Homo sapiens: one gene and its partner. The protein of the gene in region 1 interacts with the protein of each later gene in a biochemical or structural test. Each region holds a gene or a part of one and is shown in the gene's direction. Other genes may lie near its edges.

The links. The genes of interacting proteins can lie anywhere in the genome.
Region 2: the proteins of DRD1 (region 1) and COPG2 form a complex in vitro, tested with the Homo sapiens proteins (one study listed by BioGRID).

Annotation. Positions count from the first base shown.
Region 1 is NC_000005.10:175,441,183-175,448,411, reverse strand, and holds the start of DRD1 (D(1A) dopamine receptor), read left to right. Parts: upstream 1-4,229; 5' UTR 4,230-4,713; intron 4,714-4,829; 5' UTR 4,830-5,312; coding exon 5,313-6,653; 3' UTR 6,654-7,229.
Region 2 is NC_000007.14:130,658,749-130,665,748, reverse strand, and holds part of COPG2 (coatomer subunit gamma-2), read left to right. Parts: intron 1-2,710; coding exon 2,711-2,782; intron 2,783-7,000. UniProt on the Homo sapiens protein: The coatomer is a cytosolic protein complex that binds to dilysine motifs and reversibly associates with Golgi non-clathrin-coated vesicles, which further mediate biosynthetic protein transport from the ER, via the Golgi up to the trans Golgi network.

The DNA of each region.
Region 1 (7,229 bases):
TGTGGGGGAGATTTTTATAGAACAAAATAGAAGGCTTTGTTTCACCGTAGCTTCAAATAAGAAAATAGGAAAAACTCCAAACCTCTAGCAAAACTGTAAGTTCCTCTGAAATTCACACTCTGTGCAAAGTGAAACACTGAGATTTCAGCTCCATTTTACTCTTTCCTGTTCTCTCAGCAATGACGTTCAAAAGCCAGTGACCTATGTCTGTTAGGAAGGAATCTCAGGCAGTGAGTTATAGAATGATAGACAAACTGGTCCAACCCTCTGGTTTTCCTGGTGATCTTAAACAAAATCACCTCCTTGGTTATTCTCAGGTTCTCTCCTTCTCTACCTGTTAGTCGTTTTTGCTTTGCTGGCTGGGTTTCTGAGCCTTTTTTGTATGTTATGATGTCTAGTCTGTTTTCTGCTACTGTAACAGAATACCACCAACTGGGTAAATTATAAACAATGTAAGTTTATTTGGCTCATAGTTCCTGGAGGCTGGGAAGTCTCAGATCGTGGGGTGGCATCATAACTTGGCAGAAGAAGAGACTACACAAGAGGCAGGGAGGGAATGGAGGCTGAACTTATCCTTTTATCAGGAGCTCTCTCCAGCAGTAACTAACCCACTCCAGAGATAACGAGATAATGGCATTAGTCCACCCAGGAGGGCAGAACCCTTTGGCCTAATCACCTCTTAAAGGTCCCAACTCTTAATCCTGTCACAATGGCAATTAAATTTCAACATGAGTTTTGGCAGAGACATTCAAACCATAGCATATGGGTAGGGAGGAGATTTAATATTGAAATGACAGAAATTTACTTGTGGTCAAGAAATAGCTCTCAATCACTACCAAAATGGTATGTGTTGATTTGATCACCTGGACTTGTCAGATAAATGGGTTGAGAGAAAAAGATAAAGGTCAGTATGGGCTAGTTTGAAATAATTTAGGTGATTTTTCAAGCAAAACAAAAAGGTTTTTTGAGCAGCTGGTGGGCTTGAGAGAAATGAGAATATGAAGTATGTTATGAATGTTCCTTTGAACAAAATTTTGATTAATATTTAAATGTTGTGTCAAATATTTTCCCACTGTTAAACTGCTGTTTTCTTGAGCATGATACCACCTGAAGCCCAGGTGTTGTGCTGTGTTTGTCATCCTTGTTTTTTAATTACAAGAGCAGTGGCATTGTTGTTGGCTCTGAGAAGACTTGGGAATTGGGGGCACTTCTGAAAGGCAGTCATTAGACAGAAATTTTATCCCTCAAATTGGCCTTATCCTTACCTCCAGAGTCTGCTATCTCGATTTTGGGGTGGCAGGGCAGGTAGTGTGTTCTTTTGAGGTTACTTCCTGAAGTACATTTTCTTGCCATATGGAATATTCCTATGGAGTCCTGCTTTGCCCAGTCCAATTCCACTGGCTCATTATCCCACAGATCAGGATCCTACCCGTTCCTGCTTTCCAAGGTTAATGCTGAATTTCTCCTACCTATTTTATTTCTGGGTAGTTTCAGTGGAAAATTGCAGATGCCAGGGTAGAATGTCAGGAGTTAAATGCTCAGGCTTACATGACAAGTCTCGAACCAGAAACATATCTTTAATTTGTGTTTATTAGTAAAAGGGAAAGAAAGAAAATGAAACAAAGTCAAGAAGTTTGGAGAATGACGGCCTTGGGGAAAGTGATCTGAAAGTGTTACGTTAAGCGTGACTTAGGGCTCTACAGAAATGCAGTTCTTGGGGAATGTGTGTGGCAACAATTGCGTCTCTGACCCCCAGTCTGTTGGACGCTGTGTGTGACGGCGAGGCCATGGGTGGGAGGAGACAGCTGTAAGCACAGGCACCGGAGGGTCTGTGCCAGCAATATGGTCCTTTCATCTTAAGCCAAGGTGCCAAAGGCCGGGCGCGATGGCTCACGCTTGTAATCCCAGCACTTGGGGAGGCCAAGGCCGGTGGATCACCTGAGGTCAGGAGTTCAAGACCAGGCTGGCCAACATGGTGAAACCCCATCTCTACTAAAAATACAAAAAATTAGCCGGATGTGGTGGCAGACATCTGTAATCCCAGCTACTTGGGCGGCTGAGGCAGGAGAAGCGCTTGAACCCTGGAGACGGAGGTTGCAGTGAGCTAAGATAGCACCATTACACTCCAGCCTGGGCGACAGAGCAAGACTCTGTCTCTAAATAAACAAACAACCAAAGTACAGTTTGTGCTGGCGAACTAAATGGAATTATTACTTTGGTTTAGGGTTTTTTTTTTTTTTCCCAGAGAAAATTCTTGCTTCTGATATGGTGCATGGCTGTTGTGGAGATTGGACTGTTAGTTTTTTTTTTTTTTTTTTTTTGAGACGGGGTCTCGCTCTGTCGCCCAGGCTGGGGTGCAGTGGCGCGATCTCGGCTCACTGCAAGCTCCGTCTACCGGGTTCACGCCATTCTCCTGCCTCAGCCTCCCGAGTAGCTGGGACTACAGGTGCCTGCCACCACGCCCGGCTAATTTTGTTTTGTATTTTTGCCGTTTTAGCCAGGATGGTCTCGATCTCCTGACCTCATGATCCGCCCTCCTCGGCCTCCCAAAGTGCTGGGATTACAGGCGTGAGCCACCGCGCTTGGCCTGGACTGTTGGTTTGTTAATGGGTCCCAGGGGTTCCTGCCTATGGAGGGCTGACGGGGTCCTAGGTTTGGTGCCAAGCCCTCTGGAAACACCGTCTCAGTTAATAGTTATGACAATCCTGTTATGTCCTCACCGTTTCACAGAGGAAGAACCCGAGCTCAGAGAGGAGAGAGTGCACATGCAGCCGACAGTGGCAGGGCAGGACCAGGAAGTCAGGCAGTGTGACTTGGGGGATCCATGCTTATTCTCCTCCCACCTTTCGGAAGGCACAGGAAGGCACCACAGTGTCGCAATTTATGCACAATTAGTGCAAAGTCTCACCTGTGAGCTTGCCTGGGGCAACCAGGGGAGGCTGGGGGCTCCTTCTCCACCAGGCCCCGCTGCCTCCATATGACTCTTCCCTGTATTTTAGCCCTGTAGGTAATTTTCCAGTTTGTGGGCTCCTGTACCACATGCGGTGAGTTAAAAGAACAGGTGGGCAGCGGCGCGGCTCCCGCGTGAGCTGTGTGACTTTGAGCAGGCCCCACTACCTTTCCGAGCCGCATTTCCACCTGGGCGAAGCGGGTTGAGCCGGCCTGGCGGGGAAAGATTCTTTTAACGGGGGAACAACGTAAGGCGTGCACCGGGGAACACGGATGCTGCTGAGTCAATGCCCGCTCTGCCGTTCTCTTTGAGAGTAAGGCTTGCGTCTCGCCTGCTCTAGCGCCCCAGGTTTGAACGCAGTGGGCGCGCAGGAGGAAACATAGATTCACGAATGCAATGCCAGCAAAGTAAAATTTTTCACCCTTGTCCGTTTTTCAGGGTGTTTCAAGCGGAGGAGTCCTGAGTGGAGAAGATTCCGCTTCCCTGTTTTCAGGTTCTGGCAGTCATGGACCGGGAAGAGCGAGTCGGGGCGCGGGTCCCTGGCGGTCGCTGGAACCCTTGTGAGTGAGGTTGGTGCCCGCGAGGGCACAGCGGGCGCTCGGGAAGTCGCAGCCGCCGGCAGAGGGCGCCCCGGGCACACGGAGCGCGCGGCGCTGGGGTTGGGGCGCTCGGGAGGTGCGGGGCACCGGCTGGAGTCCGGCGTTGACCGCAGCCGGGACGCGCCCGCCACCTGGGCGGGGAAGGAGTGAGTCCCCTCGGGGCGCAGCGGCGCGCGCTGGCCCGGATCCCAGCTGCGCCGCGCCCTCCCTGCGAGCGGTGAGTACAGGCGCCCACGGGCATCTCCAACCCTAGTTAGGGGACACTTGGAGACAACGCAGGTCGGACGTCCGCCGGCCGTTCTAGGAGTTGGTGTGCGGGGAATGGGGGGTGCTCCCGCTCGCTTAGGGCTTTGGGTCCGGCTAGGGGTTGACCCCAAGAGGCGCTGGATGTCGGGGCTGAGCTTTGCTTTCAGGGGACTCAAGCTTACTTGAGGTTCTGACATTGGATTTGCCTCGCGGGCCCTGCGCGTGCTGCGCGGGGATCCGGAGACTGGCGAGGTAACCAGGGAGGGCAAGCACTCACCGGGGCGTCCTCCGCCCACCTCGCCCGCAGAACCATCCAGGGGGACCACGTGCGGCTGTCGCCCGCAACTCTGCCTGTCAAGCGAGGACCGCCCCCAGGGCAGGGGAGGGGACGCGCGGGCGGGGTGGGCTGTGCCCCGCGGGAACCCCGCCGGCCTGTGCGCTTGCTGGTGCCAGCTCGGCTCGCTGCCTCGCATTGCCACAGGCTCCTGAGAGGTCGCGGGCAGTGCCTGCGGGGAGGCGCGGGGCCCTGCTCTGTAGGGCTGAAGGCCGCCCGAGGTTCGCCAAGGCTCTGGGCTCTCGAAAGGAAGCCAAGAAAAGAAGCTGCCCAGGTGACCAGTCCTGGGAGTGCTCTCTCCCAAGGAAGCTCCGAGCGCCCAGGAGCCCTTAGCCGGGGTCTAGTGCCCTTTGAACAATCTCCAGCTCTTCAAGGAAGTGGGCTGCCGCCGCCTCTCTTGGGACCTGGCCTGGGATCCTTTCCCCAAACGCACCCCGGCGATTTTTGCGCACCGGGAGCCGAACCCCTGCTGCGCGCAGCTGGCTGGGCTCAGGCGCGCTTCCTCAACGTTTCGGAGCCGCTGCCCCCAGCGAAGTCCACATTCCAAGCTCCAGGGGCTTTGAGAGAGACGACCCCAAGGCAAGGTAGGTGGCTCGGACGGGCTCGCCCTGGGAATTATTAGGTTGGGCTTGACGTGAGTAATGATGCCATCTGCTTAAGTCTTGGAGAAAGACCGTGTGTTTTCCTTTTGCTTTTTAAGGCGTTTGGAGAGCTGCTGAGGAGCCAGGGGCTTGGAGGAGCGAGAAGACATGTATTTTCAGCTGAGTCTCAGAAGGGGAGAATCTCCTGTCACCACCAGAAAAGCAACAGCCCCGAAATGTGATTGCAACTGACTAGCAGAGCAGAGGCCCAGGAGTCACTGGATTGATGATTTAGAATATGCTAAAAAGCCAGTGCTTTATTTGGGGAATTCAGGGGCTTTCTGGTGCCCAAGACAGTGACCTGCAGCAAGGGAGTCAGAAGACAGATGTAGAAATCAAGAGTGACCATCCACGGGATTGACTTGGATTGCCACTCAAGCGGTCCTCTCATGGAATGTTGGTGAGGCCCTCTGCCAGGGAAGCAATCTGGCTGTGCAAAGTGCTGCCTGGTGGGGAGGACTCCTGGAAATCTGACTGACCCCTATTCCCTGCTTGGGAACTTGAGGGGTGTCAGAGCCCCTGATGTGCTTTCTCTTAGGAAGATGAGGACTCTGAACACCTCTGCCATGGACGGGACTGGGCTGGTGGTGGAGAGGGACTTCTCTGTTCGTATCCTCACTGCCTGTTTCCTGTCGCTGCTCATCCTGTCCACGCTCCTGGGGAACACGCTGGTCTGTGCTGCCGTTATCAGGTTCCGACACCTGCGGTCCAAGGTGACCAACTTCTTTGTCATCTCCTTGGCTGTGTCAGATCTCTTGGTGGCCGTCCTGGTCATGCCCTGGAAGGCAGTGGCTGAGATTGCTGGCTTCTGGCCCTTTGGGTCCTTCTGTAACATCTGGGTGGCCTTTGACATCATGTGCTCCACTGCATCCATCCTCAACCTCTGTGTGATCAGCGTGGACAGGTATTGGGCTATCTCCAGCCCTTTCCGGTATGAGAGAAAGATGACCCCCAAGGCAGCCTTCATCCTGATCAGTGTGGCATGGACCTTGTCTGTACTCATCTCCTTCATCCCAGTGCAGCTCAGCTGGCACAAGGCAAAACCCACAAGCCCCTCTGATGGAAATGCCACTTCCCTGGCTGAGACCATAGACAACTGTGACTCCAGCCTCAGCAGGACATATGCCATCTCATCCTCTGTAATAAGCTTTTACATCCCTGTGGCCATCATGATTGTCACCTACACCAGGATCTACAGGATTGCTCAGAAACAAATACGGCGCATTGCGGCCTTGGAGAGGGCAGCAGTCCACGCCAAGAATTGCCAGACCACCACAGGTAATGGAAAGCCTGTCGAATGTTCTCAACCGGAAAGTTCTTTTAAGATGTCCTTCAAAAGAGAAACTAAAGTCCTGAAGACTCTGTCGGTGATCATGGGTGTGTTTGTGTGCTGTTGGCTACCTTTCTTCATCTTGAACTGCATTTTGCCCTTCTGTGGGTCTGGGGAGACGCAGCCCTTCTGCATTGATTCCAACACCTTTGACGTGTTTGTGTGGTTTGGGTGGGCTAATTCATCCTTGAACCCCATCATTTATGCCTTTAATGCTGATTTTCGGAAGGCATTTTCAACCCTCTTAGGATGCTACAGACTTTGCCCTGCGACGAATAATGCCATAGAGACGGTGAGTATCAATAACAATGGGGCCGCGATGTTTTCCAGCCATCATGAGCCACGAGGCTCCATCTCCAAGGAGTGCAATCTGGTTTACCTGATCCCACATGCTGTGGGCTCCTCTGAGGACCTGAAAAAGGAGGAGGCAGCTGGCATCGCCAGACCCTTGGAGAAGCTGTCCCCAGCCCTATCAGTCATATTGGACTATGACACTGACGTCTCTCTGGAGAAGATCCAACCCATCACACAAAACGGTCAGCACCCAACCTGAACTCGCAGATGAATCCTGCCACACATGCTCATCCCAAAAGCTAGAGGAGATTGCTCTGGGGCTTGCTATTAAGAAACTAAGGTACGGTGAGACTCTGAGGTGTCAGGAGAGCCCTCTGCTGCTTTCCAACACACAATTAACTCCGTTTCCAAATACATTCCAGTGTATTTTCTGTGTTGTTCATAGTCAATCAAACAGGGACACTACAAACATGGGGAGCCATAAGGGACATGTCTTTGGCTTCAGAATTGTTTTTAGAAATTTATTCTTATCTTAGGATTTACCAAATAGGGCAAAGAATCAACAGTGAACAGCTTCACTTAAAATCAAATTTTTCTGGGAAGAAAATGAGATGGGTTGAGTTTGCTGTATACAAACAGGTGCTAACACTGTTCCCAGCAAAGTTTTCAGATTGTAAAGGTAGGTGCATGCCTTCATAAATTATTTCTAAAACATTAATTGAGGCTTACAGTAGGAGTGAGAAATTTTTTTCCAGAATTGAGAGATGTTTTGTTGATATTGGTTCTATTTATTTATTGTATATATGGATATTTTTAATTTATGATATAATAAATA
Region 2 (7,000 bases), on another chromosome or scaffold:
TGGGGAATTGGTTCCAGGACCTCCATTGGATACTAAAGTCCATAGATGCTCAAGTCCCTCATACAAATGGTGTAGTATTTGCATATAACCTACACATATCCTCCCATATATAAGTTGTCTCTGTGATTATAATACTTAGACTATAATCTCTAGATTACAATACCTGGTGCAATGTTAGTGCTGTGTAAATAGTTGTTGTGCTGTATTGTTTAGGGAATAATGACAAAAAACCATCTGTACGTGTTCAGTACAAACATAGTTTTTTTTTTCCTTGAATATTTTCAATCTGAGCCTGGTTGAATCCACAGATTCAGAACTCATGGTTATGGAGGGCTGACTATATATGTCTATACACATACAGACGGACACATAAAACATACATATATACCATATACCTCAGGTGGTTTACATATGGTGCTAAGATAACCATGGTTTCCAATTTGAATTCTAAGAGAATATATTATCTTTACTTTGTTTTGTGACTGAAGACCTCACTCAGAGATTTAATAAAGTTTTCTTGTTTACAAATGAAGACTAAGCAACAAGCACATAGATTTTTTTTATTTTTTGAGATGGAGTCTCGCTCTGTTACCAGGCTGGAGTGCAGTGGCGCAATCTCGGCTCACTACAACCTCCACCTCCCTGGTTCAAGCAATTCTCCTACTTTAGCCTCCTGAGTAGCTGGGATTACAGGCATGCACCACCACGCCTGGCTAATTTTTATATTTTTAGTAGAGACGGGGTTTCACCATATTGGCCAGGTGGGTCTCAAACTCCTGACCTTAGGTGATCCGCCCACCTCAGCTTCCCAAAGTCCTGGGATTACAGGTGTGAGCTACTGTGCCTGATCATCAAACACATAGTTTTAAATAAAATATATCTGTTCACAAACAACATAATCCCTCTGTGTCAGCATATGAGAAACATTTAAAGCATAGTCAATTGGGTTTAACTTTTCATAGCACACATTGTGTCTAAGTTGGCCAAATCCATTGTATAAACAAAAGTTTTGAATAGTCAAAGTTGATTGAGAGTAACATGTATTTTTATGTTGGTCATTACCTCTTCAATGAGGCAACTCATGTTGAAACATTTAATTATCTTGATAAGGAAATTACCAAGCACAGCATAAACACAATTAACTATATAAACAGGTTTGGGAACATAAATTTTATCTCTTTGCCTAGAACTTGGTAGAGCTTTATAGAAAGATACTTTTGAATTTCTATGAGAGTTGACATATCCATGTGTTTTCTGAGTTTCAAGTAAAAAAGTAGGATGTAAGGTTTTCCTGTATAACTAAAAAGCACACAGACTTCTGGGTATTCAGTAAATAGTTGTGAAAGAAAGATAAATCTCATGCTGATGAGCAGGCTGGATACACTGATTTAAGTAAGTATAAACTTATTGTACTTTGTCTTTTATCCTAAACTGTCAGTATTTTTCACCAAAATTTATTCTTATACCTATGGCAAATAGATTGAAGACTAGTTATATTTTATGTGGAATCTGAAGCTCTGAAAAGTGATTGAGTGTAACGTATTATATAAGATTGCTTTTAGTGAAGACATTAAATATTGAAATGGTAATATTTGAGGTAATCTATGATTTGAGATGTTTTGAAATACGTTATCTAACACTTTTTCACTGCTCAGAAAATGTAGTTCCCAGATCAGCATTTGCATCACTTGTTAGAAATGCCAAATCTCAGGCCAGGCGCAGTGGCTCAAGCCTGTAATCCCAGCACTTTGGGAGGCCGAGGCAGGTGGATCACGAGGTCAGGAGTTCAAGACCAGCCTGGCCAACATGGTGAAACCCCGTCTCTACTAAAGATAACAAAAAATTAGTTGGGCGTGGTGGTGCACACCTGTAATCACAGCTACTTGGGAGGCTGAGGCAGGAGAATCACTTGAACCCAGGAGGTGGAGGTTGCAGTGAGCCAAGATTGCGCCATTGCACTCCAACCTGAGCAACAGGGTGAGACTCCGTCTCAAAAAAAAAAAAAAAAAAAAAAAAAAGAAAAGAAATGCAAAATCTCAGGCTTTACCCCAGAGCCACTGAATCAGAATCTGCATTTTGGCAAGATCCCAGGATGAATTGTCATGCTCATTAAACTGTTTGAAGCTCTGATCCAAAGCATGTTTTTAGGGGCTTGAACCAATATTGAGCTACATAGCAGCCCCTTAAGCCTAGTTTTTTAATATGATGAATCTGGTTCCTGCCCTTTTGGTTGGTCCCCTTCTTGCCATTTTGCTGAGATTCTGAATAGATAGTTCCTTATATTTTAATATTTATTATGCTCCCATGACATGTTAGGCATTGTGCTGGGCATTATAGATATGATCTCTGCTCTTAGGCAGTGTAATAATAATGTCCTATTGTGAGTGCTGTAATTTTCTCCCTCCTTGTAAACTACAATACTTCAGGAAAATTTCAGATACTTTCTACTAAAAGTTTAGAGATCACTATGCCAGAACTTTTAAGCATGGTATGCGATACTGAATTATTTTAAATAAGGGGGGATAAATGGCTATGTGGGTTTATGCATTGAAAGCCAGAAAAATTGCAGAGGCAGAATGTTTACAAAGAGATTCTTTTTTCTTGAGTTCTAAAGGATTTTTGCAGAAATAGAAAATCCTGTGTGTGTATATGTACATATATATGAATATACACTTTTTAAAATTTAAAAATTGTTTTAAATTTTACTTAGGGTGAACACTTTGGAACAACGGAAGCTACAGAAGCCTTCTTTGCAATGACGCGATTGTTTCAATCTAATGATGTAAGTCTTTTTAAATTTTTTTTACGATGAAAAACCTCCTTTTATTTATTTTCCCCAGGGAACTAAGAGTGTTCTAAATTAGGGAGCATTGCTTGAAATGTTTTAAATTATTTAACTGCTTATAAAACTTATAAATATTCATTATAAGACGTGAAAATGGAAGAATTAAAGTATGCAGTGTAAAACTTTTCCCTGCAGATCTACCGTGAAGTCATAAAGACTGTTAATACCTAGCTTCTGGCATGACACTGTGAAGGTGGACTGATAAAGAAGTCAGTGCACATAGCTACCACATTTGTCAGTTCTTAGTCAAGTTTCTGGTGGGCCTGGGATTGCTGTTAGTCAGCAGTGCTGGCAGTTGAGAAGAAGAGCTGGATGTGGAGTGGGGAAGGGGAATAAGGAATAGAATAAGGAAAAAGAAAAATGAGTACAAACTAAACCTGCCTCTCATTACCTTAGGCCACCCTGACCTTCAGAACATACAGCTGCTGCTTTTTGTCTGTCTTCTAAGTGTTGTGTACATTTTTCTTTTGCCTAGCTCTAAGGCAGAACCATACAGGGAAGGTAATTCTGGGATATGTATTTTCCAGCTTTCCATTAACATAAATTGGCCAAATCCTGCAGTTTTTTGGTATGTATTGCATATCATCACATGTCACATTTTGTGTCAACCCCCAGAACCTCTTGAGATTTGAGTCTTGTTATGGATCTAAATAATGAGAGGTTTTAGGAGTAGATCTTCAGGAAGATCAGCAGTCCCCTGTAAGGCAGCTGTTTCAGGGGAGGCCATTATATACTCTACAGGCAAAGGAAGACTAATTTCCTCACATATGGGATAAAGGACTGATGCTTCTACTAGCAGAAGATGTCACAGAATTTAGGAGTTCGGGGTACTTGGCTTCATCAGAGTCTGTCCATATATCTTCATTCTACTTTTCAGGGCCCCATTCCTTGCCAGTCAAGGTCCTAACTTTAACATAAGATGTCCTGCAAGAGTGTGAATTCAATTTGCATTGTAACTGAGCCACCTGCAGGATATACTTTGTAGAAGTCTCAGCCCTGTAGCCACATGATATAAGGCTTTCTATGAAGGCAGTTATAGATTTCTGGCCCCCTTACCCAGATTTGAGTAGTGCTTTTAAAACTCCGAGCTCATCATTTTCTTTTCCTGAGAAAAGAATTATCCAGTGTACCTAGAAACAACTAATTAACCCATTATACAACTTATTTTTACTAAAATCTTCTATGGCATCCACTAGTTAGTTACCCAAGGCTTTGTCTTCTGTAGGTCCTTGTCTGCAGATGATGATTTTAAATATTTTGCCACTGCATGCTGTGGACTACTAGTAGCCCCTTTACCATTGGAAACTGGTCATTAATACCTTCAATCAAATCAGAGAAGCAACTTCAGGTTCATATCTTTAAGGACTTCTTTTAACCACTTCCTGTAGCAGAAATTCAGGGTTCAGACAGGGAAACAGAACCACTATGAGTATTGTGGAATTAGGTGTTTATTAGAGGAATTAGACTAGAAAACTAGGCAGGTTGAGCTGCTGGAGTAGGGTTCAGAGGGAGGCTGTTACATAAGTCATGGAAGGCTATTGCCTCTTTTGTGGCTTTGTTTTTGCAGCCAGGTGTCTTCCCAAGGCTGCTGTTACTCAGAGGGCTGGCAGTTGGGAAGAAAAGCTGGACATGTAGTGGAGAAAAGGAAGCAGAGTAAGAAAGAAAAAGGATGAGGACAAACTTTTGAAGCCTGTAGCACAGAGGTTTATATTAAGAAAAGAAGATATGAAATTGTCTTCTAGGAAATGGATTAGGGAAATGTAGGATTGTTCGATAGGACTAATAGCCTGTTGAAGTTAGTGCTTATGAATTTAAAGTATTACCAATGTTTTTCTCCAGCTACATGGTGAATGTTTTTCTCCAGCTACAGCCTGCAGGTTAAAGCACTGAAGGCTTAGAGATAGGATTTAATCAGGATTGAAGTTTTGCCAGGTTAGTGAACAGAGGGAGAAGCAAAAAAGTTGAGTGGTTGGAACATCGACTGTGGAATCTTCGGTTAGGAGGGAAGCAAGAACGGGCTGACAGGGACAGCAAAAAGTTGGTAGAACCAGTGGATTGTAGGTCAAGAGAGAGTGAAAGAAGTTTGGAGTCAGGAGTGTGAGTGCTTGGGAATGAAATTAGAAAGGGATGCTGTTACTGATAGGCTGTGGCAGTGGGTGATCATTGTAGGGAGGATGGCATCATTGGAGAAGAGGAGGTCGAGGAATGAAGAGGTCAGAGGTTTAGAGATACCATCTGTATGGATATTAAAATCACCAATACTTATTACTGGGATTGCACTGGAGAGACAGTGAACAAGGTACTGGTATTTTTTAAAAATAAGGGAAGTGACCTGGGGTTTAATGGACAACCAGCAATGGTAGCAGGTGACATAGTATAAAGGCATAAGCTTCCCCACCTGTAGGCCTGGTGGTATGAGGGTTATGGGAGAGAAAACAGCTGCTATTTCAGAGGGTTGCAGGAGGATCCCTGGGAGAGAACCAGGTTTCAGTTAAAGAAAAAGATGGGAACATTCAGAGAAGAGTTTGAGAATATAGGGGATTTTGCTGATGAAAGTGTCAGAGAATATAATGGCGCTGATTAGAAGGGTGGAAAATGGAGTCAGACGAGGTGCTGTACCCAGATGCAAGGAATAAGTCTGCAGGTTATGAATAATGACCAGAGTATTTTAGGCTTTTTGTAGTGACTGAGGTAAGTAGCCATGTACAGCATGATGTGATTAGTTTTAATGATTCCTTAGGCAAAAATACGGAATTGAGGGAGTGATTGTTTTGGGACAAAGAGAGGTAGAGATTTTGCCAGAAATACGTGGAGCTCCTTCCGTTACCAGCATTCCTTTACCAGAAGGTAATTACTGTCTTGAAGTTGGTATTCTTCTATCGTTGTTTATATTAATATATGAGGATTACATAGTTTACATCTGTAATCAATACTTTGCATTTTTGTGTGTCTTAAAATATAAAAATAACATCTTCTTCTTTTGCAATGTTGTTGTTGTTGTTTTTGAGTTGTCGCCCAGGCTGAAGTGCAGTGGCGCGATCTTGGCTCACTGCAGCCTCCGCCTCCCGGGTTTGAGCGATTCTCCTGCCTCAGCCTCTGGAGTAGCTGGGACTGTGGGCACGTGCCACCATGCCTGTCTAATTTTTGTATTTTTAGTAGAGACAGGGTTTCATCATGTTGGCCAGGATGGTCTCAATTTCCTGACCTCTTTATCTGCCCGCCTTGGCCTCCCAAAGTACTGGGATTATAGGCCTGAGCCACCACACCCAGCCTGCAGTGTTTATAATTAATACATTTTTAAGATTTACTGGCTTGTTACATGTACTTCTACTTTATTTACTTTCACTACTATATGGAATTCCAATATGTGAATATACAGTAATTCTATTTATCCATTCTCCCATTGGTAGATATAAGTTGTTCCCACATTTTACCTATTACAAATGATACTGCACATAATGTTTATGTACACAGTGAGACTTTTTCTGGAGTAGATACCTACAAGTGGAATTTCTAGATAATGCTTGTTTGTTCGTTTTTTTTTTTTTTGAGACGGAGTCTTGCTCTGTCGCCCAGGCTGGAGTGCAATGGCATGATCTCGGCTCACTGCAACCTTTGCCTCCCAGGTTCACGCCATTCTCCTGCCTCAGCCTCCTGAGTAGCTGGGACTACAGGCACCCGCCACCACACCTGGATAATTTTTTGTATTTTTAGTAGAGACGGGGTTTCACTGTGTTAGCCAGGATGGTCTCGATCTGCTGACCTTGTGATCCGCCCGTCTCAGCCTCCCAAAGTGCTGGGATTGCAGGCGTAAGCTACCGCGCCCGGCCTAAGCATATTTTCATGTACTTATTTGCCATCTGTATATCTGCTTTGATGAAGTGTCTGTTAAAATTTGTTACCACTTAAAAAAATCAGGTTGTCGGCTGGGCCCGGTGGCTCACGCCTGTAATCTCAGCACTTTAGGAGGCTGAGGTGGGCAGATCATGAGGTCAGGAGTTTTAGACCAGCCTGGTCAACATAGTGAAACCCTGTCTCTACTAAAAATACAAAAAATTAGCTGGGTGTGCTGGCAGGCACCTGTAATCCCAGCTACTTGGGAGGCTGAGGTGGGAGAATCACTTGAACCCAGGAGGGGGAGATTGCAGTGAGCTG